7 linked regions of the Homo sapiens genome follow. The protein of the gene in region 3 interacts with the protein of the main gene of each other region in a pairwise test. Each region holds a gene or a part of one and is shown on either strand. Other genes may lie near its edges. The genes, in order: SSU72, CEP126, MAPK9, XPO7, ZBTB25, NHSL2 and ZFTRAF1.

Region 1 (3,987 bases), on a different chromosome or scaffold from region 3:
GGGGGCCTCCTGTGCCAAAGCTGTGGAGTGACTCACTGAACTACCAGCAGGCGCCCCCGACACAGGCGAGCTGAGCAGACCTTGCCCCAAGCAGCAGGGCCGGCCTCAGGTCTCGGCCACTCCCCTCTGTCACGGCCTCGGCCACTCCCCACTGTCACGGCCTCGGCCACTCCCCTCTGTCACGGCCTCGGCCACTCCCCACTGTCACGGCCTCGGCCACTCCCCACTGTCACGGCCTCGGCCACTCCCCTGTCACGGCCTCGGCCACTCCCCTCTGTCACGGCCTCGGCCACCCCCTCTGTCACGGCCTCGGCCACTCCCCTCTGTCACGGCCTCGGTCACTCCCCTCTGTCACAACCTCTGCCCAGCGCGGCGCCCAGCCGGGTACTTACACACTGGCAGAGCTCACAGATGAGAAACGCCCCCAGGGTGGCCTCCTCGTGGTTGTCCTGGATGTCCACATTGACCACGTGCACAGGCTGGCAGGTCTCCTGTTCTCTGGAATTCAGATCTGATTGGGACAAGGTGACACAGACGTCAGAGGCTCCAAAACCAGGGAACAGGCAGTCAATGTGGCTGAGTCCCCAGCTCTGCCGGCTGCAGGCCCAGCCCAGCCCCAGTGGTTTCTGGACTCTGCAGTTTGGGGAGCACAATGAATGAGCCTCAAACCGAAGGCGGCTGATGGTTCGAGGAAACCTGAGCAAATCTCCAACTCAGCACAAGCTGGTCTGGGACTCCCCACCCACCAGCCAGTCCTGGGGTGAACCGTGACTGGCATTGCGACCCTTCCCCGTCACTAAAGACCAGCCCTCCCTGCTCCACCGCCAGCTCCACACAGGGTCCATCCGCTTGAAAAATGGGCCTGGCGCGGTGGCTCTCGCCTGTGATCCCAGCACTTTGGGAGGCTGAGGCGGGCGGATCACTTGAGGACAGGAGTTCAAGACCAGCCTGGCCAACATGGTGAAACCCCGTCTCTACTAAAAATACAAAAATCAGCTGGGTGTGGTGGCACACGCCTGTAGTCCCAGCTACTCGGGAGGCTGAGGCAGGAGAATCACTTGAACCCGGGAGGCAGAGGTTGCAGTGAGCCTAGATTGTACCACTGCACTCCAGCCTGGCGACAGAGCACGACTCTGTCTCAAAAAACAAAACAAAAAAACACCAAGGAGAAAAGAGGCCCCTTGAAGCCCATGAGGCTGCAGCCAGCACATGGGTGGTTCAGCGACCAGCGGCCCTGCCTGCCTTCCAGGGTGCTTCACACTCAGGTCTGCTCCCCGGCCCCCGCCACTCTAGACGGGCTGTACTGGTCATGGTGGGGCCCTGCAGGCATCCCCAGACCCTGTGAGAGCTGCTGGAGCCCAGCCCAGCACGCAGCCGCCTCCTCACCTTCCACCACCTGGTCATACACTCTCTCTTCGCAAGTGAGGATCAGATCAAACAGGTCTTTGCAGTTCTGGAATCTTTCTGGCCGGGGCTTGATTCTCTTATTTCTGTCCAGCATATGTAAAATCCCATTCTGTGTATAGCTACACATGGGAGTTAAGGAACGTCAGAGAAAAGGCATCTGTGTATGAAGCCTGGAAGCGCCTGTGTCCTGGACACCCAGCCCCTTCCCTGCCCCACAGCAGAGGCAGCCGGGACGAAGGCCTGGACAGCGGAGTGGGCCATGCCCTGGTGAGGCAGGGGCCTCACTGTCCTAGGAGGTCCCACAGAAAACAAAGTGGGCGATGGCAGGTGCTTGCTCCTCGCTGTCCCCCAACTCGGCAAAAAGACCCAAGGCCCGCAGGACACCCCCCGCCCCCGCCCAGCATGACACCTTCTACCCAGACCTCTCCCCTCACTGCTGGCCCGGCCCAAGCTGCCCTTGGCCTCAGTCACTGTGTCTCCGCAGTCGGATCCTTCTTCCTCCCTCTGCTCCCTGTGCAGTGCATGCTGGCTCTGAAACCTCAGCCCTTCAGCAGAGACAAAGCAAACCCGGAAACCCAGTCCCCAGTCTAGCTCAGCTACAACAGAGTCAAGAACATCGGAAAACCCAAAGAAAGGAAGCTCCAGGCCGGGCGCAGTGGCTTATGCCTGTAATCCCAGCACTTTCGGAGGCCGAGGTGGGCGGATCACGAGGTCAGGAGACCGAGACCATCCTGGCTAACACGGTAAAACCCCGTCTCTACTAAAAATACAAAAATTAGACGGACATAGTGGCACATGCCTGCAATCCCAGCTAATCGGGAGGCTGAGGTTGCAGTGAGCCAAGATCATGCCACTGCACTCCAGCCTGGTCAACAGAGCAAGACTGTCTCAAAAAGAAAAAGAAAAAAAAACAGAAGGTTCAGCAGCAATCAGCCTGGAAAACGCTGATACAAAAACCAAGAGGGCAAGACAGTCGAGGAGGGAGATGCCACAGCCTCACTGACTATGGGATGGTGGAGGGCAGGATGAGGCCTGAAGGCACTTGGCGTCCAGCCCAGCTGAAAGGGGGCCTTGGGGTGAACGCTGACACACACCGGCCCCAGCAGTCCCAGGAAGGGGCCACAGGAGCCTCTGGGGTCCTCAGGGTGGGGCATCCTCCCACCATCCACAGTGGCCATGCCTGGCCTCAGGGGTTCCCAAGGAAGGGGCTCACTTCCCCAAAAAGAGAGACTGGGTTCCCAAAGATGAGCTCTGTGGTCTGCAGGAGCTCATTTGAGCCATTCCAGATGGTCAGGGACAAGTAACCACTTTCAGATAAACAGCCTAGCTGACAGGAATTCTAAGTGAACTCAGCTACCTTCCTGGGTAGCAAAAATAGTTTTTATAATAGTTTTATAATACATTGAAGTGGTTGATCTAACGGCATCTGACCCTGAGCTGCATCCTTGGGTCACTGTCAGCAGCGTGGAAGTCACACACCCACCCCTGACGTGTGTCTCCTCCTGCACATTGGAGTCCCGCCTGTGTCCCCGAGGCCCCTGGAAGCAGCTATGACACCCGGGTCCATCTCTGGGGAACTTAGTCCTTCAGCCGCTGAGAATCAAAGTCTGCGGAAAGAAGAGCTCGAGGCCGGGTGCGGCGGCTCACGCCTGTCATCCCAGCATTCTAGGAGGCCGGGCGTGGCGACTCACACCTGTCATCCCAGCACATCGAGAGGCCGAGGCGGGTGGATCACCTGAGGTCAGGTGTTTGAGACCAGCCTGGCCAAGATGGTGAAACCCCGTCTCTACTAAAAATACAAAAGTTAGCCAGGTGGGGCGGCACACACCTGTAATCTCAGCTACAGCTACTCAGGAGGCTGAGGCACGAGAGTTGCTTCAACCCGGGCGGCGGAGGTTGCAGTGAGCCGAGATCACACCACGGCACTTCGGCCTGGGCGACAGAGTAAAACTCCTTCTGGAAAACAACAACAACAACAAAAAAAAAAAAAAAAAAAAAAAAGGCCGGGCGCGGTGGCTCACACCTGTAATCCCAGCTACTCGGGAGGCTGAGGCAGGAGAAGCTTGAACCTGGGAGGCGGAGCTTGCAGTGAGCTGAGATCGTGACACTGCACTCCAGCCTGGGCAACAAGAGCAAGACACCGTCTCAAAAAGAAAAGAAAAAAAAGAGCTCAAGACGGCCTGACCTTGTTGTGTGCAGCCACATGCAGAGGGGCAGGTGCAGGGACCGGCTCACGGAGAGGAACCGGGGTCAGGGTGCAGGGGTCCAGTGGCAGCTTCATGGTGGGCACAGGGATCACCCTCCCTGCACATCCCTGAGCAAGACACAGCCGGGGGTGAGGCCGTGGGGGCTCCTGGGGATGGGACTGGTGTCACTGGCTGGCAGAGCTCATGGACGTTCAAGGCCAGCTCTTCCCTGAGGCCTGGACAGTTCTAAGTCCTTTCCTCCTTTACGTCATTCTCAACTATTTATGTAGATGAGGCAATAAATTAAGAATCATTCAGTTAAGGAGAAATGTCTACTTCAGGGACAAAGCAGCAGCCTCCTCAGCTACACAAGGATGAGCGAGCAGCCACCCTT
Region 2 (3,987 bases), on a different chromosome or scaffold from region 3:
GCACTTTGGGAGACTGAGTGGGAAGATGGCTTGAGCCCAGGAGTTCAAGACCAGCCTGGGTAACACAGGGAGACCCTGTCTCTATATAAAAAAATTAGTTGGGCATGGTGGTGTGTGCCTGTAGTGCCTGAAAGGTTGAGATGGGAGCATTGCTTGAGTCCAGGAGTCCCAGGCTGCACTGAGCCATGATCACGCCACTGCGCCCTAGCCTGGTCAACAAAGTGAGACCCCATCTCAAAAAAAAAAAAAAAAAAAAAGAAAGAAAGAGATGATGAATTGGAATGAGAAAGTAGAGAAAATACTGGACTAAAGAAGCCCAGTAGGGTAGAAGAATGGTAGGAGTAAGAGTAGGGAAAAGAGAGGAGAATGTGCTTAAGTAGAGGAGTGAGTGAGTTTGCTTACTACCTGGGTAATAGGATCCATACCCCAAACCTTAGCATCATGCAATATCCCCATGTAACAAACATCCACATGTACCCTCTATATCTAAAATAAAAGCTGAAATAAAGAAAAGAAGTAGAGGAGTTATGAATGTTGATGAGGTCCAGAATATAACAAAGGGAAAGGGTATTTGAGGCAGAATTGTATAGAAAGTTATTAGAGATGAAAAAGGAGTGAGAGGGATCAGGATGTTTGCTCATCCATATAAAAGCTGAACTATCCAATATGATGGCAAAGACTCTGTATGGAAATGAAGACTGTGAACCAAATATCAAAGTCATCTTTTAGGGGGGAAATAACTGGAGACATCAGGAGGTGGTATAGTCGAATGGCTTGGATCTAATTGGAAGAGTTTTTCCTAGAGAGTTATGCTAGAGTGTTCTGGAAATGCTAATTGAGAACAAGATGCTCTCCACAATCGTCAACTCTGGATGCATAAGGGTATAAAAATAAAATGAACTGCAAATAAGAGAGTAGGAAAAAAAATCCCACAAATGCTCACTGAACTGTAATCCAGTATTAACAAAGAGTTCACTTGAAGCATTTTATATTTAAACAGTTTTGGAAAAAAAAGCTTAAATGACTGAACATACAAAATATTCAGTATTGTTAGTACTGTTATATTTTCTAAGTATAATCGCTGTATTAATAGGTATAGATATTTACAACAGTGTGAATATTTAAGAACATTTAAGAATGTTAAAATTCATTACATTTTCCAATGTCCCTTATACGAATGTCCCAGAGAGAACTACCTCCTTTGACTAAATGTCAGGAAAATATTGGTTTCTCCAGATAAAATGTATCCCATTCCTTTATCAGAGAATCAGATAATTTTAATATGTTACCCTTTTGTACATAAGCTATTGGGAAACTATAAGTTTCCTAATATTTTTCCTAATTAGCAGAGTGTGATATATGATATTTGCTTTATCACTATATTTACTATATGATTTTAGTAGAAAAAGCACAGGACTTGGAACCATAGAGATCTGGATCAAAATACCAATTCTGCTATTTACTAGCTCTTGACCTTGGATAATTCTGCTTACTTCTTTGCAAAACAGTGTCTTAAAAATATTTATTTCTCAGCATTATTACAAGGTTTAAATGAGACAGTAAGTATAAAACAGTACTGTGACTGGTACAAGCTACAAACTCAAAAAGGGTAACTATCATTATTTATTTTAGAATATTTAATCTGTACGATACCTTCATTTTTTTGAAGTGTTGTGAAAGCTAAAGTTACATTCTGAAATGACTGGATAAAAAAATCATAATTTTAGTGAGAGAAACAATTTTTTAAAATCTAGATTTTTGTAGACAAGTAATGAAGATTTTTAGATTATAGTGTCTGCATTTAGCTTCCCTTCTGCTAATGTGGCTTCTATCCATTCAATTCAAGTAGAGTCTGGGTGATTACTAAGTGCCAGGCACTGTTAGGATCTGGGGATACTGTGATGAATTACACAAATGTCCCTTGGCCTTAAAAACTCATGGTTTAATTGAAGATGACTTTGAATATTAAATTTTAAACTCTCATTATATATCAATATTTATTCATACCTTTGGAAAAACAAGAGTTGTTTTTCTGATTGCCTCCAGACTCCAGTCCTAACTATTTCTCAATAGGCAACTGTTTCCTATTGGCAGGAAAATATATTGCTTTCTAGTTTATTCCTTCATAGAAGGAAAGAAGTTTTATGAGAGTCGACCAGCTAGTAAGGGCAATGGCATTCTATAGAGAATTAATTTTCAAAAATATTTCAAGACAATGATATCATTTTTTTGCTCTCACAAAAACCAATAGTCATAGCAGATAAAAGCAGAGCTACCACACTTTGGGAAAGAGAATGGGAGAATTAGGTATATCTAATTAATATTAGTTTATAGCAACTCAATTTAACAAAAGTTTTAAAGAAAAATAAATATAACTACATGTATTCACTTGTTTATAATAATTTAAACAATATTTTTCACTGTGCTTACTTTGTTGGAAAATTTGACTACAATAGTAATGACAGAATAATATGGGACAAGAATCAGATCCTATTCCTTGTCCTTCCTCTTAAACTAACAGGAAAAGTCATGGAAAAAAATGGAGGCTGGCAAAAGTTTCTAATTTCAGTTGAGCACTGGTTGGGTCATTCTCTTAAAAGGATTCAGCTACTAACGTCACAATGTTGTTGTTGTTTTTTTTTTTTAGATAGAGTCTGGCTCTGTTGCCCAGGCTGGAGTGCAGTGGTGCACCACCTTGGCTCACTGAAACCTCCTCCTCCTGGGCTCTGGGTTCAAGCAATTCTCCTGCCTCCTCCCAGGCAGCAGGGATTACAGGCACGCGCCACCATGCCCGGCTAATTTTTGTATTTTTGTAGAGACAGGGTTTCGTCACGTTGGCCAGGCTGGTCTCGAACTTCCAACTTCAAGTAAATCCGCGTGCCTTGGCCTCCCAAAGTGCTGGGATTACAGCCATGAGCCACCGTGCCTGGCCAAAAATCACAATATTACAGGAGGTAAGTTACTTCTTTCTTTTTTTTTTTCAGACAGAGTCTTGCTCTGTCATCAGGCTGGAGTGCAGTGACATGATCTCGGCTCACTGCAACCTCTACCTCCCAGGTTCAAGCAATTCTTCTTCCTTAGCCTCCCGAGTAGCTGGGACTATAGGCACGCACCACCATGCCGGGCTAACTTTTCTATTAGTAGAGATGGGATTTCGCTATGTTAGCCAGGCTGGTCTTGAACTCCTGGCCTCAAGTGATCCGCCCGCCTGGGCCTCCCAAAGTGCTGGGATTACAGGTGTAAGCCACTGTGCTTGGCCTGGAGGTAAGTTATTTCTATAAAGCTATTGTTTAATATTAATATTTATGTAGTATGTATGGCCATACATAAATAGGAACAATTTCACATGACTTTAACAAAGGTGTACATTTTATCTATAAAAAGCTATAAATTTATTCTTACCTGTAGCCCTCTTATTTTGATGCAGGACATTAGGACCTCTTTTCCATAAGGGAACTGATTCTTCTTCAGCAGTTCTTAGAGTCACAGACGGATAACTTTCTTCACAAACAGGACTTCTTTGGGTGCAATATAATGTCGCATCTTGCCGGGCAACTGCTTGAGTGCCATTTGAATGATTTATTTTTGCGAAAGTTTGGCACTCTGAAGAACAATATGATGGCAGTGATGGTATCACAGTGACTAGGTCAGAACAAGCATTTGAGAGTGGAGAACTACTTTCCTGATTCCACTGATTCAAACTGTGTTCTGTTGGAAGCACATGTTTTGAATTAAAAGAGTTATGTGTAATAATGTTTTGAGGATTTTCAGGAGTTACTGGTTGACACTGAGACACTTGTATATTTTTACCACTTCTAATATTTGATGTAGATTGAGGAGGAGGACAAGGTATAATTAATTTTCCCTGAGCTTGTGTAAATATGTTGACTTTGCTTGCAGACTGTGGTTGAATGACAGCGCCTTTTCTGTTTGTACATATAAAGCCTGATTGGACTTTTGCAGATCCTGGTTTTCTAATTATTTTTG
Region 3 (3,987 bases):
ATAAATTTGAGGTGGTGGCTAAAAATTAAATCATATGTAAAGTCAACAGTAATGCCTCAAAAAAAAATGAGGCACTAAAAAAGGTAAAATTGCTTGGAAGACTTCTAGTCTATTTATGATATGGATTTAGTTTAATTCAACACGTGGTTTAATAAAGATTTGTCATGTGATATTATATCAACTTTAGAATCAAAATAATTATGAAAAAGTTAACCAAAGAAGAGTTATTATGTTCCTCTTAATAATCACCTGACCTCAAAACGCAGACATCTGCCCAGATGTCATTAGAAACTCATCATCACAGGCTGTTTCCCAGAGACCCATTATGGACAAGGCACTGTGCTGGCAGCTATGGAAGGTACTGTTGTTTCTTAGAACAAATTTTACATTTTCTTCATGGGAGAACTCCCAAATCCAATGTCCAACTCATAAATGGACTGTTATAAAAGTCTGCTTATAAATTGGATTCTTTTTATATAAAACAATGTTTAAACTGATGGCAAAACCACAGGCCATGACATAAACATGTATTTCACTCATGGCATGAAGGAAGCCTGCCACTACGCAGTGATTTCCCTCACAGCTAAAGCTCACTCACACCAGTGCTGACACAGAAACACGCACGTGAGCACCAAACTCAGAGTGGAGCTCCTCCAGCGGGGGAACCAGGAGCTACAATGCCTTTAGGGAAGGATAAACAGACGTGTGATTTTTCAGCAAGTTGCTCAGCCTCTCTGGTTAAGTGGCCTAAACAAGAGGATGTAACCAAAGCCAATGGCACAGAATAGATGCTTAATAAACTATGAGCTCACAGCAGCATTTGCAAAATGGAGACTGGTAGCACCAAAGCGGAAGTTCATTCCCGAGGTACTCTGAGCTGGGGCTCCAGCAGCAAAAGAGCAAGCGACCCAGGTCTCAGACAACACTTGGCCTTTCTGTAACTGGGAGCCCCCAAATGGAGAACTTGCTACCCATATGTAGCCACTCTGGACGGACAGACAAGATCCAAGGAAATATAAGCCTGGCCTCTCTATATAAATCTTTTCAAAACAGATACTCACGGCTTCTGCTTCGGCGGGGTCATACCAAACAGTGATGTATGGGTGACGCAGAGCTTCGTCTACAGAGATCCGCTTGTCAGGATCAATCACTAACATTTTTGATAACAGATCTCTGGCTTGACTTGCTAGGGTGACAACAAATATTAAATTAATGCTGTTAATATGAAACAAACAGAATCATACAATAAAGAACTAAATATGACAACACAGATAGAACAAAGATATATTAATTTTGAGAAATGTTTGATAGGTTCAAGATGAATATAACCCAAAATTTTTTTTTTTTTTTTCGGAGACGGAGTCTCGCTCTGTCGCCCAATGCAGTGGCGCAATCTTGGCTCACTGCAAGTTCCACCTCCCGGGTTCACGCCATTCTCCTACCTCAGCCTCCCAAGCAGCTGGGACTACAGGCGTCTGCCACCATGCCCGGATAATTTTTTGTATTTTTTTAGTAGAGACAGGGTTTCACTGTGTTAGGCAGGATGGTCTCGATCTCTTGACCTCGTGATCCGCCTGCCTCAGCCTCCCAAAGTGCTGGGATTACAGGCGTGAGCCGCCGCACCCAGCCATAACCCAAACATTTTTAAGAAAAAGTCAAATGTCCACTTTCATGACAAACCAGGTTTCCAAATGTAGTTTTACGCCTCTGGATCTGCAAGGGGAAGAGAAACCTGGGCTCCCAGGGTGGTGGGGAAGAGCACCAGGCAGCCTCAGACCAATGTCTGGGCAGGGCCCAAGGCTGGGAAACCACAGCAAGGAAGGTGGCAATTGCCGAGCTGCGGGTGGCACTGCCCAGAGTGTGGGCATGAGGCACGGGGGAGTATTTTTCTCTAAGTCACATCGAAATGAAATTAGAACAGACTTTTCAAACCACACAACAATCTCACATTCCCACAGGATAAAACACTCACAGATGCTTCTGGCTGGCCTAGCTGTATACAGTGCTGGCAACTTACACTTTTTTTTTTAATCTACAGATTGGTATTTAGGAAAAAGAAAAACAAGTTCAATAACTTAGTTAAATATAAGGCTCACCTAGGTTTTGTCAATTAAAGTTCACAACCTGAATAAGCAAAGACTGGGGCTTTTCTGATTAAGGCACAGTTTACCTTCATGCGGACAGAATCAAATCTTTTCTTTTTCCTTAAACAATCACACTGTAGTAAAGGGTGCAGGAGAAGGTGGGGAGGAAGGACCTTTTTCATCGAACAACTGTCACATCGCTTCTGACTCTAGAATCTGCATTAAGTGTTCTTCTTACCTGAAAACTTTTTGAATTCCAGTTGCTGTAACTGTAACATAAGATTCTTTCAGACTGATTTGATTATTTTTATTTTGGCCAAAGGCTTCAATTAAGCCGTCTTATAGAGGATAAAGCTTCTAGACCTTTAAGCTTTCTCTCCTCAGTGCCTTCGTACCTCAGACTTCAGGCCTAAAATGACTTTCTCTCCCAAAACACAGGTTTTTAGAATACAAACATGAAAGAGTGAAAGCACCACCTGAATTACAAAACACAAGTATAAGAAAAAAAGGATATCTTACTTTTTATTTTGTCTCGCTCAGATTCTGATGGGAATATCCAATCTGGAAAGAGTTCTTCAAATTTGATTCCAGGATACTTTGGTCTGTTTTCGACATAATTCCTCACAGTTGGCTGAAGTTTCTTCATGAACTCTGCTGATGGTGTTCCCAGCTGCTCAATAACTTTATTCCACTGATCAATATCTAAGGAGTTTCTTGAGGAAAATACAACTGAAGTACCTTGTATTCACAGTACATGCGGCAGCATCACTTGAATAATATTTAAACCTATCGACTAGGCCACCCCACTGGATCAGCAGCGGAATTTTGAAATAATATTCAAATAAGGTTTGGGTTTCCAAGTTACACTATTTTTTAAAACTCTCACACTCTGCATCTTCATAAACTATGATCACAGTTTATTAAATCAACACAATGAAGTCTACACACCTTCCCACTCTAGTTCAAAATAAAGTTTATCTTATAACTAAGAATACCTATAGCAAAAATGATTAAACACGAAATTAGATAAACATTACATAAGCAAATTGAAATCAGTTTTCATACTAATGCTACCTTAGATTCATTCACAGCTCTCTAAAGAACAGAGGATCTCAAGGGACCTGTGGAGAGACCTATCTGACCTCCTCAGTTTACAGCTGGGAACCAAGCAACTGGGCTTAGACTGAGCCCAGCGACAGCTTTCAAATGATGCTCTATTTTACTTGGAACTGACTCTTCCCAACCATCACTGCGATCCCTAGGTAATGCATTTTATTTCCTTTCAAAGTGCGTGACCTGGGTTTCAGACTCAACTCTGCATTAAACACTCAGTGTGTCAGGAAAGTCAGGCTTCCTTGGGGTCTGTTTCCTTATTTGTTCAATGCAGACATTACCAGCTTTGCCTATTCCACAGGGTGCTTGTTAGGCTTGGGATAATTAGGATTACATGTGGGAAAGTGACACTGAAACTGTACTCGCTATACAAGAGAATGCAAGTGAGAAAAAAATAGCATCAACAGCAGCTTAAAAAAGTGCTCACTGAGGCATGTCTTAGAAAAATGAACTTACATCACCATGAAATAACCTAGGGAACTGGTACATGAACTCAGTTCTTCCAAAATGTTATACTTCCAAAAGACCCGCTCAGGAAATGTGTTTCTGGCATTCAATTCACTAGCAAATTCTCCTTCCTACTCCTGGTTCATACATATTGTCAAATCAGAATTATGCCCACATTTTATTTACCTATTTAGCCAAAATGTGAAAACTGTCTCACACCTTTTCCTTCTGCCATATATACATATATAAATAAAGACAGAGTCTCGCTCTGTCGCCCAGGCTGGAGTGCAGTGGCATGATCTCGGCTGACTGCAACCTCCACCTCCCGGGCTCAAGTAATTCT
Region 4 (3,987 bases), on a different chromosome or scaffold from region 3:
AACTCATGACATATGCTTTCAAAACTTTGCAAACAATTTTAAATAGAATTGGAAAAAATCCTAAGAAAACCCTTCATTTCCCTTTTCTAGCCTTAAATACACCCCTTTAAACCATAAATTGACTCAAACTTTAGGGCAAATGTCTAGCAAAACTCTCAGTTCTTTCTGAGACTGCACATTGTAAATATCATAATTTCTTATCATGCAAAGTACCAATGAGATCAGCATGTGTCCAACTCAAGTTCATATATTTAAAAGCTAAAAGGCCACTACAGTTATAAGATTACAATTTCCTGAAGTAGTACAAGGGATATTTTAATAATCTGCTTGTTTTCAGAGGAACATTGTTTTCCAGAGGAAAATATTTTGATTTTTTTTTTCATCTAACTAATGTTTTTCTAAGAGAGGTTTAAAACCCAGGGGCTTTTAAGTGAGAATCATTTCTCAGCCTACCGGCATCAACATTTGACTAATAATGTTAATTTCTTGTCCCATAAGAAATATCTTTCACTGCTTATTGTCCAACTAAGAGACCTCTTTCGTTACTGTTTGGGGCATAAGAGAGCTCAATTTGTGAGAAGTGCTACAGATGACTAGATCTTACAGAAAAAAACTCTGGGAGTTTAAGAAATTAGGCGTAAAGAAGAGGAAGATATATTTAAGATAGATAAAATGGAAATGTTGGTTTGAGCATAAATATTTTAAGGAATTTTACAAACATGTACATATGAATTGAGAACACGGTGCTATATTGGGGAGAGAATACAAGGATGACAACTGGAAATCCCATCCAGAATGCTTGAAGTACAAGGGACTTCACAGATCACTTAATCCAGGCTCAGAGACCAAACGAGTTTCCCAATTAAATGGCATAACACTATAAAAGGCTTAGCATGGTGCCTGGCATATAACAGACACTCAGTTAATACTGGTATCCCCCTTTCCCTATGACCAACCAAGTCACACTCCAGTAAGTCTTACAATAACCACCACCATGAACATCATCTAAATCTTCCAACAGCGAGTTCTCCAGTCTTCCAGGGATACCAGGTCTTTTAATCAGCTTATTTCAAGGAAAATTCTATTACTATTATCTCTATACCGATGTTACATTGCTGCGGTGAGCATTAAATGATATCAATTAATGCTAGCATGAAGTTTCCAATTCTGCCTTCTCTTAAATACATCCTTCCCATTTTATGGCAGTAGGAGTGTGTGTGTGTCCTTGTGTGCATGCACACATGTGCGAAGGGGTGAACAGCCATTGAAGCAAATATCAGAAATACTTAGGATCTAGGTTTTTTACAACTCTCTCCCTCCCCCAAGATTTTGATATGCCTCCTGGGTACCAATCCCATTCCATTGAGAATTTCCTAGTAATGAGTCACTATAAATGTTAGGAATGAATGTATTCCAGACATGTATTGGAATGGGGGAAAAGATAACGGGGTAGTGACTGCCCCCCATTCAGGGACATGTCGACAAAACCAGTCTCACTACAAATTCACAACTCAATGACCAGGCTTGTTGTGATGCTCAATTCAATGTAAGGCCCTGGAAGTAGAATATCACATCTTGTATTTCCTTCTATGTGTCTGCACAGTAACAAAAATGGGATATTAGTAGATGCTTAAGTGGTCACCATTAATCATCCTCAAGAATTTATTTCAATATTTAAAAATTCAGCTTGCATGTAACTCTCCAGGAACATTTATCGTGGTCCTGAACTTGCTTTTCAAATAAGTCAAAAGAGAAATACTTGTAAATCAGTTTCTCAATAAAATGTTGTGAGCATTTTCATCTAAAAAGAAACATATATTTAAACTCTAGTTATCAAGGTTCATGAATGGCCTAAAATTGTGGGTAAAATTTTGTGTAGGCACACTCTCCCCACCCCCACCAGAGAGCAGTAACATAGCTTCCATCATATTATGAAATAAATCCCCCCAAAGCTGTATAATCACTGCTCTGTACTGCTTCTCCCCCTGGCTTTGAAGCTAAAACTCTCAGGTTACTCAGCTTGAGTTCTAAAAGCAGATTTAAAAATAAAATGACAGGATAGTAGTTAGTGGGGTGGGGGGGGGAGGGGGGCTACAGGTAGCTGTTGAGATGGTATCAGGGGACTTCTGGGGCACCGATAATACTGACTTGATTTGGGTGCTGGTTAGTAAGGAGTATTCACTTTGTGAAAATTCATCAAGCTGAACACATATGATTTCTGTACCTGTCTGCAGGTATATATTTCAATAAAAAGTTTTTGAAAAAAATAACAAAGATGGGTCACTTATACACAGCATATATCATTACAGAATTTAATGAAGTCCTTAAAAATGATGCACTAGGAGAGGCCCATTGGTAAAGAACTGCAGCCTCCAGACAACAGCCAGTGAGGAACTGAGGCCTGACCAGGCCCGCTGTGTGTAAACCTAAAGAAAATTCTCTATCCTCAAGTCAAGCCCTGAGATTGACTGCAGCCCGGAGCCCCAGCTGAGAGTTTGACTGCAAATGAGACCCTGAACCAAAACCATCTAGTTAAGCCACTCCCAGATTCCTAACCCTGAGAAAATGTGAGATAATGTTAGGTGTTTTAAAAAGATGCAGTTTCAAAACACTATCTTCCTTGCACATACTGAAGTGGGCAAAGTAGCCTCAGTAGTTGTACCTACAGAGAGACATTAGCTTATTGGTTTAAACTGGCAACTTTCCCACCTCGAAAGGCTGTGGTACAATATTGCTTTCAAAACCCAACCAAGAAAAAAGAAAATACAGCTGGTGGTTATGAACATCAATTTCTGGGTCAAATGGAAGCTAATTTCTCTGTAAGATATAGAACAGGGATCTTCCTGATACTTCTTTCTATACCTTCATCTAAATTAGAGATTCTTCCATCACTGTACTGTATTTTGTTTTTTCTGTGTTAAGTGTTTGAATGATCCCACACGTATATATACATCCCTTAATTTTTCTCAAGGCTTCTCAGGAAATATACTAAAGTCAGAGTAATCAAGTAAATATATAGATATATATGTTTTAAATACAGACATTTCCAGTGTGGTGTTGAATAGGAGTAAAATAATGAAATAAAATACACACATATTATTTGTATAAACCCACGAAAGAGGTATAATCAGGGTGGGAGTGGGTGATGGGATATAGTTATTGCTTATCACCCAACACAGATGTAGCATGTTTTGAAATCAATGTATTCTTTCTTGTATCTACGTGTGTGCTCCTGAAGCCTGCCAAAAGAGCATCAGAATTGGATATTTCAGCAGTCTGGCTCCAGTGTCTTTCTCATTCTGAATCCTCTGAAGTGCCCAGCACAGAAAGGGCCTTGCACACACTAAGCATTCTGGTATTAGTCGAACTGGAAAAAAGTTAGAAAAGTTATGTTTTTTCCATTTAAAATTCTCAAAAGTTGTACGGAACTCCCTTTTCAAAATGGACTACCCATAGCACTTATCATTTCCTTGCATATTGTTAAAAGCTGAAAAAACAACCATCACTTTTGCTATAATCAGGCCGACTTTTTGCACCCTGCTAAAATTTAACCTGACAAGTTGTAATGATTCTTCACAACTCCCTGGAGTTACACTGGTAGTCAATATTTAATTACTGTGCCTGGAATTTAAAACAAACTATGACTACTTTGCAAATAGTACATTCTCCTAGTACAGTCATAATGCAAAGCCCAGTAAATAATAAGACCCAACACAACAACGTAGTAATTCCAGCAAAATCCTGGAATCAGTCTTCATTTCCATTATTTATGGTAAAACTAATATAATTCATATTAAATAGCATATTCGATATATAAATCATATTCTTTCCTTCCTTTTCCTCTCGAGCTCCTGAACACCAGCTAGCACTATTAAAACTAACATCTGATCCTTCTTAATCTTCTTCATCACCACTGTTCACTGAGCGTTGTCTTCATCTCTTTGCGATAACTTACCAGCTTTAGATATGTTAAAAAAAACATGAAAG
Region 5 (3,987 bases), on a different chromosome or scaffold from region 3:
GTTTCAGAGGCCTCTTCTCCCTCTCTGGCTCTGCTCTCTCTAGAGCCCTGTCCTGCTTCTTGTCCCCGCTGATCACTAAACATTTCTACTTAGATACCTGGTAGACACTTGGAGCTCAGAGTGTCTGAAGTGAAACCCCTATTCTTCTTCTTCTTTTTTTTTTTTTTGAGGTGGGGTCTCAGAACCTCTTATCAAGACGGTTTCTGTACTTCTTCTCTAATGTTCTGGGACTCTGCCTTTATATCAACACCTAGCACATGGCAGTTACTCTGAAAATGTAATCTGAAGGAATGGATGAATTCTTCCAATTACCCAAGCTGGAATTCTGAGACTCACCTTTGATTTGATCTCTGTGGTGACAAGTCATGTCAGTTTTGTGTCTGATGTATCTCTTGTATTCCTTCCTTCATTCCCACTGCGATTACTTTGATACCATAGTAGGCTCCTAGCCAGTCTTTCTCCATGCCTTTTCCCTTGCTAATATTTTTTATATGTTGCTGTTAGAGCAGTCTTTACTCACGCCTAATGATGGTGATGATGATAATGCCTAGTATTTATTAGGCACTAACTGTGGGCCCACTGTTTCTAAGTGCATTATATCATTAAATTCAAATAACCTATAAGTTAGATACTGTCATTGTCCATATTTTATAAGTGAAATGGAGGCCCAGAGAGTTAAGTGTCTTGCCAAGACCACGCAGCTAGTAAATGGCAGAGCTAAAATTTTAAGCTGTCTGATTTTAGTTCAAGCTTTAACTACCACGCTCTGTTCTCCCTCCCACAGAGTAAGTTAACTGATCATGCTGTTCTTACTCAAACATCTTACATAGTTCACTTCAAACACGACACTACTTTTTAGTCTTATATTCTGTATGCTTTTTGAACTGACCACATTTCATTATTTCTGTTACTTTTTTTTTCTATGCCAAGCTGAATCCTTCTGTTATCTAACTATTCATATTCTTCCCAGTAATTTTATTCATTTTATTTTTTCTGCCTGGCCTTGTTTCCCATCAAGTTGCCTGTGTTTATCTCCCTCTGATAGCATGTTCTCTAACTGCTCTGTGCTACTGAATGCATTTATTTCATATTATAATTATGGTTTGATGTTTTATCTTTCCTGTGAGCCTGTAATCTTGAGTGTAGCATCTTGTCATTTTTTTCTGTCTCCACGCCTTGTACAATGCAGGCTTTTACACATTTTTTCTTTATTAAATTGCTCTTCAAAAATATCTGTTGAATAAGTGAAGAATTTAACTGTTACCAACAGACCATTAACCATAAGATTCCTGTATGGGTGGCTTATTAGTGTGCTATGTCTCATTTCCCTATGGTTCAGTAGTTCAATATAATGGGAAGAACTGGTGAAAATGTTTATGATCCGAGGGTTTGGTTTTGTTTTTTTTTTTTGAGACAACTTATCAGGCTAGTTTAAGATGCTTCAATATGAACCATTTCATTGATTCTAAGACACGTTTTTCACATGCTGAAATTGTCAATACAGATTTTTAGTTTGTTAGGCCGGGCACGGTGGCTCATGCCTTTAGGAGGCTGAGGTGGGCAGATCACCTGAGGTCAGGAGTTTGAGACCAGCCTGGCCAACATGGTGAACTCCCGTCTCTACTAAAAATACAAAAATTAGCTGGGCATGGTGGCGGGCACCTGTAATGCCAGCTACTTGGGAGGCTGAGGCAGGAGAATCGCTTAAACCCAGGAGGCGGAGGTTGCAGTAAGCCGAGATGGAGCCGTTGCACTCCAGCCTGGTCAACAAGAGCAAAACTCCGTCTCAAATAATAATAATAATAATAATAATATAACTTGGGGATTATTCCACATCAGTACATTAAATATGTAGTTTTAATAGAGTCTGCCTTTTTTTTTTTTTTTTTTTTTTGAGATAGGGTCTTGCTCTGTCACCCAGGGTGAAGTGCAGTGGCATGATCATGGCTTACTGTAGCCTCAATCTTCCTGGCTAAAGCTATCCTCCTGTCACATCCACCCAAGTAGCTGGGACTAAAGCATGCACCACCGTGCCTGGCTAATTTTTGACACATAGGAAGCACTATAAAATGTTAGCTATATTTATTATATTACTGATCACTTAGCTGTCTGCTGCCCAAGCCACTGCCAATCTTTAGACGGCTAACCCTGCATTACATCACTGACCTCCTTAGACCTTGGTCTGGCTGGCTGGTGTGGAAACCTCATTCTCTTTTTCAGTGTCTGCTCTTTCAAAGGATGTTCTCCTGGCCACCCAATGATGCCCTTTATACTACAGCTACCTTCTGCCTAAAGTACCAGGGCTCTCTCCACAGTAGGGTAGAGAAGATGATGTACAGTCTGCCACCTGCCTGAAACCAGGGCACTTCTGAATGTTTTTGCTGCTTATACTCGGCTTCTTGGCCAGAATTCTGCATGTTCTTCCTCATATAGGCTTCCCCGCAGTTGTTCCACCTTGCCTTTTACTTCCTTTGGGAACCTACATTATAATATGCGTCTGAATCCAGTTGAGATCAGTTCTTTCTTTTGTGTGTGTGTGTGTGTTTTTGAGACAGAGTCTCACTGTTGCCCAGGCTGGAGTGCAGTGGTGTGATCACAGCTCACTGCAGCCTTGACCTCCCAGTCTTAAGTGATCCTCCTGCCTCAGCCCCTCAAGTAGTTGGGAGTACAGGTGCATGCCACCATACCTAGCTAATTGTTTTATTTTTTGTGGAGATGACGTTTCACTATATTGCTCAGGTTGGTCTCCAATACCTGGGCTCAAGCAACCCTCCTGCCTCATCCTCCCAAGGTGCTGGGATTACAGGCATGAGCCACTGCGCCAGCTTAAGTTCTTTCTCAGGAGGCTCTTGGGCCACAAGTAAATTGGGGATGTGGCTTGACATCTATTTTAAGAGTTCCTGAGCTACTGTGATGATAAGTCCCCCAAACATTTGATGAGAGTTGGGAAGCCAGTATCCCCTGAGCACCAGAGGATCCCTGAGGAGGAGTGACATCTCTAGCTCAGCCAGGATACCGTGTTATGTTATTAACATTTATAGCTAACATCGAATAGCAGTTTCCATTACAACATGATTTTCACATAAGTTATTTAACTCTGAGGCAGGAATCAGTATCTCATTTTCATTTTTCTAATGAGGAAACAAGATTAGAAACATTGTGTTCACATAGATGGAAAAGGACAGGTCTGTCTTCATGTGTCACTCATACCAAGCTATCTTCTTACCAGATGAAAAAGGGTCATATTTTATGGTTCAGCAGAGTTTATATCAGTTGTCATAATGGAGGAATTTAGTGTTAGCCGTGTTTGCAGTGAAAGTAATAGGATTGAAAACTTGAATAATTTCATTTAAATTTAGATCTCCTTGTTACTCTGTAGGTTTGTGTGAACTGTAGACAATTTTGTATTAATAAAAAATAATGCGTATATACATACACACCTATCTACATTTATCTTGTCCTTTTTTTCAGAACCACAATGGACACTGCCAGCCATAGCCTTGTTCTTCTCCAGCAGCTGAACATGCAGCGAGAATTTGGTTTTCTGTGTGATTGCACAGTTGCAATTGGAGATGTTTACTTCAAAGCCCACAGAGCAGTGCTTGCTGCTTTTTCTAACTATTTCAAGATGATATTTATTCACCAAACAAGGTAAGGATGTGTTTTTGTAAATAAGAATTTTTAATATTGTGATTTATATAAGCTTTATTATAGTATCATTTTGGAAATTCTTTGTTACGGAGTCACACTAAGAAGTAAAATTATAATTTTTTTTTTTTTTTTTTTTTTTTTTTTTTTTTTTTGGCGACAGAGTCTTGCTCTGTCACCCAGGCTGGAGTGCAATGGTTCAGTGTCGGCTCACTGCAACCTCTGCCTCCCAGGTACAAGCGATTCTCCTGCCTCAGCCTCCCGAGTACCTGGGATTACAGGCGCCTGCCACCACGCCCGGTTAATTTTTGTATTTTTAGTAGAGGCAGGGTTTCACCA
Region 6 (3,987 bases), on a different chromosome or scaffold from region 3:
ATGTGCTTAACACGAATGAACTGCACACTTAAAAATGGTCAAGATGGTAAATGTTATGGGTACTTTACCACAATTAAAACAAAAAGAGACAGAAAAAGAAAGGATGAGAAGCATTATGTATTATGTTTATGGTTCCAGGAAGAGCCAAAGAACTCAAACCACCCAAGAAAGTGAGCTCCCTTTCCTCCGGAAGGCACAAAAAGAGGCTGCTGGTGGCAACATATTCCGTTGTTTCAGATGGCTCCGAGCCTGCCATGGCACTTGAACTCAGTCTGGTGGGGTACTGGGTCCCATGTAGGGAACTAAATTCACTGCAGCCAATGAAAAGTACTGTACAGTGAGGTGGAGTAGTTCCCAAGACAGGATGCATGCTTGGCTAGGGATGTGGGATGCTGAAGTCCTAGGGTGCTAGAACCTAGTTTGATTTCATTATCTCAGCACTAGAGATTTAGAGGGGAGAGTGGCCTAAACTGGGCCTTGGAGATCTGCCTCGGGCTAGTCTTGATCTCAAGGGCAGTAAGGCCAGCCCGTGGTTCCTATTTAGAGTAACTCAAACCCTCAAAGGGTGCCCGCTACTGACTTGGGATCAGGATAATTATTCTGGGGCATCTGCTTCCATCTCTGGCACTCCATTCTCACCCTCATCTCTCCTGTGACTGAAGGAAAAAGCCAGCAGACAGTTTACTAACCCAGAGGGCTTGCCTCCCTTTCACTGTCAGCCTGAGGAGTTGAAGTCACCCTTTGACCAAGTGATTGCAGGTCATCGCCGGTGGCGGGACACTTGGTGTCTTCCTCCAGGGTGATGATGGGGCTGAGAGGCAGCCTTGGTTCTGCCACATAGGCCTCCATTTGAGCTGTGGGAGAAGTGAGAGGCAGGTACAGCACGCTGGGTTTTTTTGGTACGGGAGGTGGAATCTTGCCTTTCTTTTTCTCAGCTTCTTCCTGGCTCTGGAGGCTAATTCTTTCAGGCAGAACCCTCACCTTGGGGCCCTCGTCCTCTACACTTCCCTGGGGAGGCTGCTGTGTTCCTGAGAAGAAAGCATCAGAGGAACTGGCAAAAGGCGTGAAAACAAGAGATGAGGGTGCTGTTGACTCCCCTGGGCTTCTGCCATCTGGGAAGCTGGAGGGCTTTGGTTTCCGCACTACCGTGTAGCTGTCTTGAGGGAGTGGTCTCGCATGTTGAATTGAGCTCCTGGGGGGCATAGCCAAGGTTGGTGAAGTTAGTGCATACTCCTCAGGAACAGATGGTGGCTTGTGGACCAAGCTTGGAGGCCTCCGGGCCACCGGAGGCTTCTCAGCTACGGGAGGTTTTGTCTTTCTCTCTGGCAAGGTGAAGACTTCTTCTGCTCTGGGTTCCTCGGCATACTCAGGGCTCTCAATATCATCTTCCGGCTCAGACTTGCTGACCGACCTCAGGCGAACAGAACGTAGGTCGGACTGAGTAACCATAGGCATGATTGGCTGGTTGGGATTAGTTTTCTGGGCCAGCTTGACGCCAAAATTTGTCTCTGAGTGGTGCCGACTCACCTTAGTTTTGCTTCGGATGGAGATACTCATCCCAGACAGATCCAGGTTGGGTGAAGAGGTCAGTGGTAGGTCAAATGATAGCCGTGACTTGGGAAATTTCTCCATTGGTGACGTCGGGGGTAGTGATGACTTCCTCTCAGGTACCACTGGACGTACCCGGACACTGCTGCTTGGAGGGGGTAAGTGGCCCAGGGTCAGGGACATGGAAACAGTGGGTGTTGGTGTTTCCGACTGGCTGGAGTAGCCACTGGAGGGTGACATCAGTCCAGGGGGCCTTCCCGGGGATGATATCTCCCTGGCCTCCACTTCAATGGAGAGTTGGGAAGGTGTAGTGGCTCTGGAGGTGGAAGGTGAGGCAAGAGACTCTGAGCTGCCCTGAACTTGGGTGCACTCAATGACTGTGGTGCCAGTGGCAGTGCTGGAGCTGGACAGGGATTGGTAGGTGTCACCAGACTTCCAGTCAGTAAGATACCAGTGGTGGGAGAATTGTGTACTTTCTGGATCTTTGTGGTTTGGAATAGCTGGGTGACCCTGAGCATCTGGGTGGGACGAGTGATGTCCTTGATGTTCCAAGGAGAGGCAAAGGCTCTTGGGCCTCTGGTCCTTGGGTAGTGCTGACCCACCTTCAGGCAAGAGGCCTGGCTCATCTTTGACCAGTGAGACACTGCGTGTGGGTGGGGAAGGCTTCTTTTTGGCCTTCCTAAGTGAGATACTCTTGGACCTCTGCCTTCTGTGCTGGGCCTCTTGCTGGGCACTAAGGGAGGCAATGTTGTCAGCACTGTTACTGCCCTCAGAGCTCGTACTGGCAAAAGGCAGGGCACAGGCCTCATTGGCCTTCTGCTCCTCATCATAGTCCACATCTGTGGTGCCTGAGTCTGTGGGCACAGACAGTGACCGCTCCCGGAATCTGCTGGCCCCACCGGGGCCTGTCTCCAGCCTCGAGGTCCCACTGGTCAGAAGGCCAATCTTGGAGGGTCTTTCGGGCATGTGCCTTTGCTGAATAAGGCGCTCAGGGTAGCCAGCTGACCCACTGCATCCTGCTGGGTTATCACGAGCGACAAGGAGGGTAGCAGCCTCCTTAGGAACCAGAGGTGGGACTTTGTTTAGAGAGACCCAAGAATTCCCACAGGAAGGATTTTTCCCATTTTCATTGACTTGATTGCTCTGGCTGGTGGCACTTGGAGTCATGTAGGTAAAAGCATCTCCCTTCCAGGAAGTGGAGAAGGTTGATTCTGTAGGTCCATTGCAAGAACTGGGGACACTGTACACCATTCCCATGCTCTCCATGCCAGGAGGGTTTGGGCCACTCCGTGCCTGGTGAGGTTCGTCCGGCTCACTGGAAGGAGTTCTCAGTACTGGCGAGGTGAGACTTGGGAACCGAGCATCCTGACCAACTGCAACTCTTCCATGAACCCCTTCTGGAACTGAGTGACTGGGCCTGATGTCGGAGGTGGTAGAGTGGGCCACACTGCCTGCTGGGCTGTTGCTGTGACCTGGAGGAAATAAACACAGGACATGAGTGCTACAGCAAGGGATCTCCCACCAGCTGTTTTGAGACAGGAGCACCAACTTTTTGCCAAGAAGCATTTGCCAACAGCTTGGTCAGAATTCCTTGGTTCTTCCCTTCCATGGATGAAGATGCTGGGGAAATTGGGTCCTTGCCCATCACCCCACAGTGAGACATACGGTGCCCTTGAATGGTCCAGATGGCTGCCAAATACTTTCCAGCTTTGATTATTCCTCTTAGAGCTGAAGTGTCACGTGGGATTACCTTGCATTTTCCCCATACTTTCACCCCAGGCTCATGAAACCATCACAGACCTCAGCATTCATCCATCTAGAGATGAGAGTAGAGGCTTCCGAACTAAGGACGGCATGGTGTGACGTTTGGCTCCAGCAATGACTCTGGAGCATGCCCAAGATGCAAAGCTAAGAGTCTGGTTGCATTGTTCGCACCCATCACTTTTAGGCTTTGCAACATAAGAGGCTGAGGATAATCTACGGATGTGAGGAAACCGTTTGGATGTTCCAAATCCCCAAAGGTTTTCTCATACACACAAACAATTAATACTGTCATGTCATTATTATTATTATTATAACTACTACTGCTATGAGAATTTGTAACAATAGCCACCATTTATTGGACACTGACTATGTACCAGGCACATGGTAGGCAAGTTACATACAATAACGCTAATCTTCATGCTAATTCCACCATGTCAGTATCATTATCCCCACTTTATAGATGAAGAAGCTGAGGCTCAGAGAGGTTATGTCACTTGGCCAAGGTCTCCTGGTTAGTAAGCGGAAAGACCAGGGCTCTTACCCTCTGCTATCTCCCTGGTCTGTGCTCCTGGCCAGCATTCACTTAATGGTAGTAATGGTTCTGTTAAGATGATGGTGAGGAACCCTCTCTCTTCATCTATTTGCCTAAATTTGGCATATCTGGTTGTATTACAT
Region 7 (4,776 bases), on a different chromosome or scaffold from region 3:
AAGCGTTCTAGCAGGAACAGAGGGTGGAACCTGCTGCATTCCTGACACTGGCTGGCTCGAGACAGCCAATCAACGTGGTCACCAAGGAAAGCTAGTAGAATATGGTAGACTGAACCCAAGCTGGGGTGATGGCCAGCATGGGCCCAACCAGGGACACGCAGAAGGCAGCATGTGGGGGCCCACACCATCTGTGCCCAGATTCTCCAGGGAGCAGAGCAGGCCAGAGCCCAGGTCTCCAGGTCTGTGTTGACCTTCCAGGGGCACCACTCACAGCCGAGAGCCACCCGCCGGAGGTGTTCTTCGCAGCATTCAGGGAGGCCTGTGCCCACAGCACTCCTCGCTCAGCTGCTCTGTTCCCAGGGAAGTCACTGAACAGAGCCCCCAGGCCAGGGAGGGCCACCAGCCAGGGCAGCCCCAGCGCCTTCGGTCTCCATTACACCTGTTCAGCTCCCTGCCTCTGGCCGCCCAGAGCAGAACTCCACTCTGCACAGTGCAGGCCGGTTTGAACCAGCTAGGCTCAGAGGCCTGGTCACCAGGAGCTCCGGTCAGAAGCAGAGCCATCACTCTGTGCCGGGCCAGTCTAGATGGGGGATGCAGTGCACCAGGGACCAGTACCATGTGGCCCATCACCACCAGGTCCAGCTACAGCTCCAGCCCACCCACCAATGGGGAGACAAGGAGACTTCCCTGTTCCCCCGTGGCCTCACACCATTGGCTTGGCTTGTTGGAGTCTCCCTCGAGATCCAAGAAAAAGTTCTGGCCAAGCGCAGTGGCTCATGCCTGTAATCTCAGCACTTCAGAAGGCCGAGGCAGGCGGATCACCCAACGTCAGGAGTTCGAGACCAGCCTGGCCAACATGGCGAAACCCCGTCTCTACTAAAAAATACAAAAACAGCCGGGCATGGTGGCAGGCGCCTGTAATCCCAGCTACTCGGGAGGCTGAGGTAGGGAGAATTGCTTGAACTCGGGAGGCGGAGGTTGCAGTGAGCAGAGATCGTGGCACTTCACTCCAGCCTGGGTGACAGAGTGAGACTCCGTCTCAAAAAAAAGGAGAGTTCTTCCGCCTGGGAGGATCGAAGGTTGTGAGCCAGGAAAAAGGAGCTGGAGAGTGGGCACATCTTGGAAGCTGAGGCACTGCCAAAGCCAAGGAGTAACTGCTAACTCTGGGAGCCAGTGGCTCTGAAAAGTGCTCCCCTAGCTGGCCCTGGTGCCTGACACCCAGGAGGGTGGGTTAGAGCCAGTGCCCTCTCCCCACCCAGGCACACTGGGGTCCTCCCGACAAGGTCATGCCACAGCAAGAAGGACTTGGAGATCCAGAGTTTGGAGAAATGGCAACCTAGACTAGCCCTACACCACCTGCTACAAAAGTAGCTCCTCATCCAGGCCCCCAATTCAAACACAAGCAGGGAAACAAGGCCCCATTAGCTACTTCCAGCTCCTGTAAGTGTAAAGAAAGCTGACAGAGAACCTGCTTCATTTCTCACAGGGACTGGGGAGTTGAAAGAGAGGGAAAGACACAGGGAAGGTGGGGACACTGTACTCTGCCTCTGGGTGTCAACCAGTTTGTCCCTGCTGCTACCTGGGAAAGGGCATGTCAAACCCACCTGGGCCAGGTACCCTAACAGCCCTAGGCTGCTTAAGGGCTGAGTCCCACTGCCATGCGGATGTGAAGATGGGGGAGGAGGGGTGGGCCGGCTCCTGGAGCACTGGCTGCCTAGGAAGCCTGGCCTGGCCTGGGTGAGGTGGGCAGGAGCCTAGCGTGGGGCATGGCAAGTCCAGTTGGATGTGGGGTTTGGCTGGGACTGGAGAAGGTACCCAAACTGTGGGGCTTGTTGCAAATGGTTCATCCCGACAAACAGCAATCCCCTCTCCTTACTGTTCTTCAGGATGAACTGGAAATGGACCAAGAGAAAGGATTCTTCCACCCAGGAGGGTAGAAAAGGAGGCGTCCATAGGATGTTCAGGAGTGGAGGGACAAACTCGGGGGTGTGGCTGCCGGAAGAATGGGGAAGGAGCTCTCGAGCACAGGACTCTGAGCCCAGGGAGCTTGGGACCGGGTGGGTTGCGGGGAGCAGTTGCGGGCTAAGGATCAGTTTGAGGCTGTGGGTTGGGAGAGTGTTCAGGGGACCGTGGGGAAGTCTAGAAAAAAGAAGGGAGAGGTAAGCGGAAGACAAGCGATTCAGATCGGGAAGTACCGTGGATCAGAAAACAGAAAAGGGGGGTCCCGAGCGGAAAATAAAGCCCTGAGAGAAAGACAACGAGGAGCTTCGGAGCAGCCGCTGGAGCCCCGCTGGGCGAGGAAGTGGCTGTAAGGGCCAGAGAGGGTTCCCGGCCGCCGGGCCCCGCAGGCCTGGCCTCCGAGGAGACGCGGATCCTGGGGCCCCGCGGCGGGGGCTGCAGCCCCGGGCTGGGCCGGGTCGGGGTCGGCCGGCGGCCCTACCTGGTACACGGAGGCCTTGGGCAGGTCCAGGCACACGGTGCAGCACAGCACCGAGTAGAGCCGCTCCTCCAGTTTCCCGCTGCCGGCCGCCGCCGCCGCCGCCGCCGCCTCGGCCGCCTCGGCTGCCCGCAGCCGCTTCTTGGGCGGCGCGTCGGGGTCGCCGGCCGCCTCCTGCAGCTGTAGCTGCCGGGCGCCCGCCAAGCCCGCCTCGTCCGGGAGCCCAGGCCCCGCCGCCTCGCCCAGAGCCGCCGCCGCCGCCTGCCCGGCGGCCGCCCCGGGCCCGGCTCCGACCCCGACCCCGACCCCGGCCGGCACGGAGCCCGCGGGCCCCGCGGCCGGGCCGCCCCCGCCGGCCTCCTCGGCGCCGGACATAGCGGCCGGCCGGCCCGGCGGGCGGATGCCGGCGCGCTCCCCCGACTAGAAGTTAGGGGCGCCGCGCGCTCCCGCCGCTCTCCTGCCGCCGCCGCCGCGAACCCGCAGCCCCGCTCCCTGCGCCGCCGCCTCAGTGGGCCCGGCCCGCGCGTAGCCCCACAGCCGCCGCGGCCACCGACCCCGGCACGGCCGCCATCTTTGTTTTCGCTGTGCGCTTCCCCCCGCCCCGCCGCCACCACCCCCTCGTCTTCCCCGTCACGTGAGCCCCACGCGGGGCCAATGGGAGCGCCGCTTGGGGCAAGAAAGCGCAGGGACTAGAGCCAATGGGAGAGCGAGGGCCCCCGAAGGCCCGCCCCTGCAGAAGGTGGGCGGGGAGGGGGCGCGGCCTGCGAGAGTCGCGGAGGGACTCGCACCTGGGGGCAGGGAGGCCCACGCGAGCTGTGGCGCCGGCGCGGCACCCACGCTCCACGAGCCAGTGGCGGCCGCCGACCCCTACGGCGGGGTGTGCCTGTGTCTCTGTCCCCCAAGACTCAGGCTTGTGTTAGGGGCTCTCGCCCCCTTCCCCGCAGGGGAAGGACACAAGTGAAAAATCCCGCCGGCCACCCCTCTCTGTCGGGTGCGGGACCCCTTAGGTCTCCACAGGAGCAAGCGGAGAGACTTCCAGGAGAGGGGACTCCAGACCCCTAACCCACCGGAATCTAATCCTCTGCTCGTCCGAACCCCCTCTAACCCTGGGGTTGGAGACTGAAGGGGTCCACTGAGGAAAACGAAGGTATTAGGGAATAGGGCTGGCTTCCACAGGCCGGAGGTACACAGGAGGGCGAATCAGCTCTGGGAAGGATGTGCGTTTCTCGAAACGCCTGTGGTACAGCCCTCCCCTGCCTCCACCCTACTCTTCAGTTCTTGAAGGTCACTGCCCCAGAGGGCCACCTGCCAGGCCAGGCCAGGATATCTGGAACTCCACCATGTCCCTGGAGAGTAAGGGCCCAGGGCTATGTCTTCTCAGCCCAGGGGTCTTCCTGACAATAGTCAAAAGGAGGCCGGGCTGCATGAGACCCCATCCTAGTTCCAGCACATACCCTGTCAGGGTAACTGACTACTGTCCTGAGGGGCCTTAGGAAGCTCACTGAAAGATCCCTCAATCCCTCTCAAAAATGGGCAGTTTTCATATTCCTGCAAAATTCCTAAGATTTATTGGAGACTAGGCCTCTTCTCTGGATCCACAACCGTGTCCAGCCCAGAATCAGGACCCCCAAACGTGTCTGGGACCCTGTCCCTTTCATTCTGGTCTAGACAAGTCCCCACACGTGGCCAAAGGACAGCACCCAGACTCTGCCCCTGACCAGTCAATGTGCAGCAAACCCACTTCAGTAGGCAGAAGAGTCTACCCCTAGGGAGAAGGCGCCAGGAGCAGGCAGGTGGGAGGGAAAGTGTTCGGCAGGGCAGAAACCCTGCCTGGCTGTATCCAACTGTCACTCCCACTGGAGGCGCTGTGTATGCAGGGCCCGGCAGTAAGCCCAGCTGCCTACAGCCAAGGCCCAGCGACAGACATCCTCCTTCGGTAGCAGCAGCAGCCTGTCCTCCTCCAGCCGGCTCAGGAGGCCTGCCACACCCAGCATCGCCCCCCCCCACATCCCATAAGTGTTGGCCGTGAAGACAGCTACAATGAGGATGGTCACTGCGACCACCAACAGCATTGCCTGACCAGCCACAGAGCGGCCCTCAGGGCCGAGGTGGCCGCCAGCCACTGCCAGCACCATGCCTCCTCCCAGGAGCAGGTTGGCAGAGGAGCGGTCCCCATTCACCCAGTGGAAATCGAAGGCCAGAAGGGGAAGGCCGATGACGGTGGCCACCCAGGCTCCAGCAAGGCAGTCTTCGTGTGTGCTCAGCCCTGGGGCCAGCGTGGTGGTGGCAGCCAAGACCTGGAGCAGGAAGCCAGCAGCAGCCCCTCGACTTGCCTGTCA

The links.
Region 1: the proteins of MAPK9 (region 3) and SSU72 interact in a two-hybrid assay, tested with the Homo sapiens proteins (one large-scale study listed by BioGRID and IntAct).
Region 2: the proteins of MAPK9 (region 3) and CEP126 interact in a two-hybrid assay, tested with the Homo sapiens proteins (one large-scale study listed by BioGRID and IntAct).
Region 4: the proteins of MAPK9 (region 3) and XPO7 interact in a two-hybrid assay, tested with the Homo sapiens proteins (one large-scale study listed by BioGRID and IntAct).
Region 5: the proteins of MAPK9 (region 3) and ZBTB25 interact in a two-hybrid assay, tested with the Homo sapiens proteins (one large-scale study listed by BioGRID and IntAct).
Region 6: the proteins of MAPK9 (region 3) and NHSL2 interact in binary tests that used the Homo sapiens proteins (3 or more experiments, as listed by UniProt).
Region 7: the proteins of MAPK9 (region 3) and ZFTRAF1 interact in a two-hybrid assay, tested with the Homo sapiens proteins (one large-scale study listed by BioGRID).

Annotation. Positions count from the first base shown.
Region 1 is NC_000001.11:1,543,477-1,547,463, forward strand, and holds part of SSU72 (RNA polymerase II subunit A C-terminal domain phosphatase SSU72), read right to left. Parts: intron 1,527-3,987; coding exon 1,387-1,526; intron 512-1,386; coding exon 393-511; intron 1-392. UniProt on the Homo sapiens protein: Protein phosphatase that catalyzes the dephosphorylation of the C-terminal domain of RNA polymerase II. Plays a role in RNA processing and termination. Plays a role in pre-mRNA polyadenylation via its interaction with SYMPK.
Region 2 is NC_000011.10:101,963,296-101,967,282, reverse strand, and holds part of CEP126 (centrosomal protein of 126 kDa), read right to left. Parts: coding exon 3,403-3,987; intron 1-3,402. UniProt on the Homo sapiens protein: Participates in cytokinesis. Necessary for microtubules and mitotic spindle organization. Involved in primary cilium formation.
Region 3 is NC_000005.10:180,239,970-180,243,956, forward strand, and holds part of MAPK9 (mitogen-activated protein kinase 9), read right to left. Parts: intron 2,787-3,987; coding exon 2,604-2,786; intron 1,187-2,603; coding exon 1,062-1,186; intron 19-1,061; coding exon 1-18. UniProt on the Homo sapiens protein: Serine/threonine-protein kinase involved in various processes such as cell proliferation, differentiation, migration, transformation and programmed cell death.
Region 4 is NC_000008.11:21,922,545-21,926,531, reverse strand, and holds part of XPO7 (exportin-7), read right to left. Parts: intron 1-3,987.
Region 5 is NC_000014.9:64,490,025-64,494,011, reverse strand, and holds part of ZBTB25 (zinc finger and BTB domain-containing protein 25), read left to right. Parts: intron 1-3,471; coding exon of another isoform or gene 3,472-3,478; coding exon 3,479-3,651; intron 3,652-3,987. UniProt on the Homo sapiens protein: May be involved in transcriptional regulation.
Region 6 is NC_000023.11:72,137,474-72,141,460, reverse strand, and holds part of NHSL2 (NHS-like protein 2), read right to left. Parts: intron 3,021-3,987; coding exon 690-3,020; coding exon of another isoform or gene 685-689; exon of another isoform or gene 99-684; intron 1-98.
Region 7 is NC_000008.11:144,459,843-144,464,618, forward strand, and holds the start of ZFTRAF1 (zinc finger TRAF-type-containing protein 1), read right to left. Parts: upstream 3,030-4,776; 5' UTR 2,813-3,029; coding exon 2,441-2,812; intron 1-2,440. Other genes in the region: TMEM276-ZFTRAF1 (uncharacterized protein LOC157542 isoform 1 precursor), read right to left, coding at 4,618-4,770; TMEM276 (transmembrane protein 276 precursor), read right to left, coding at 4,285-4,770.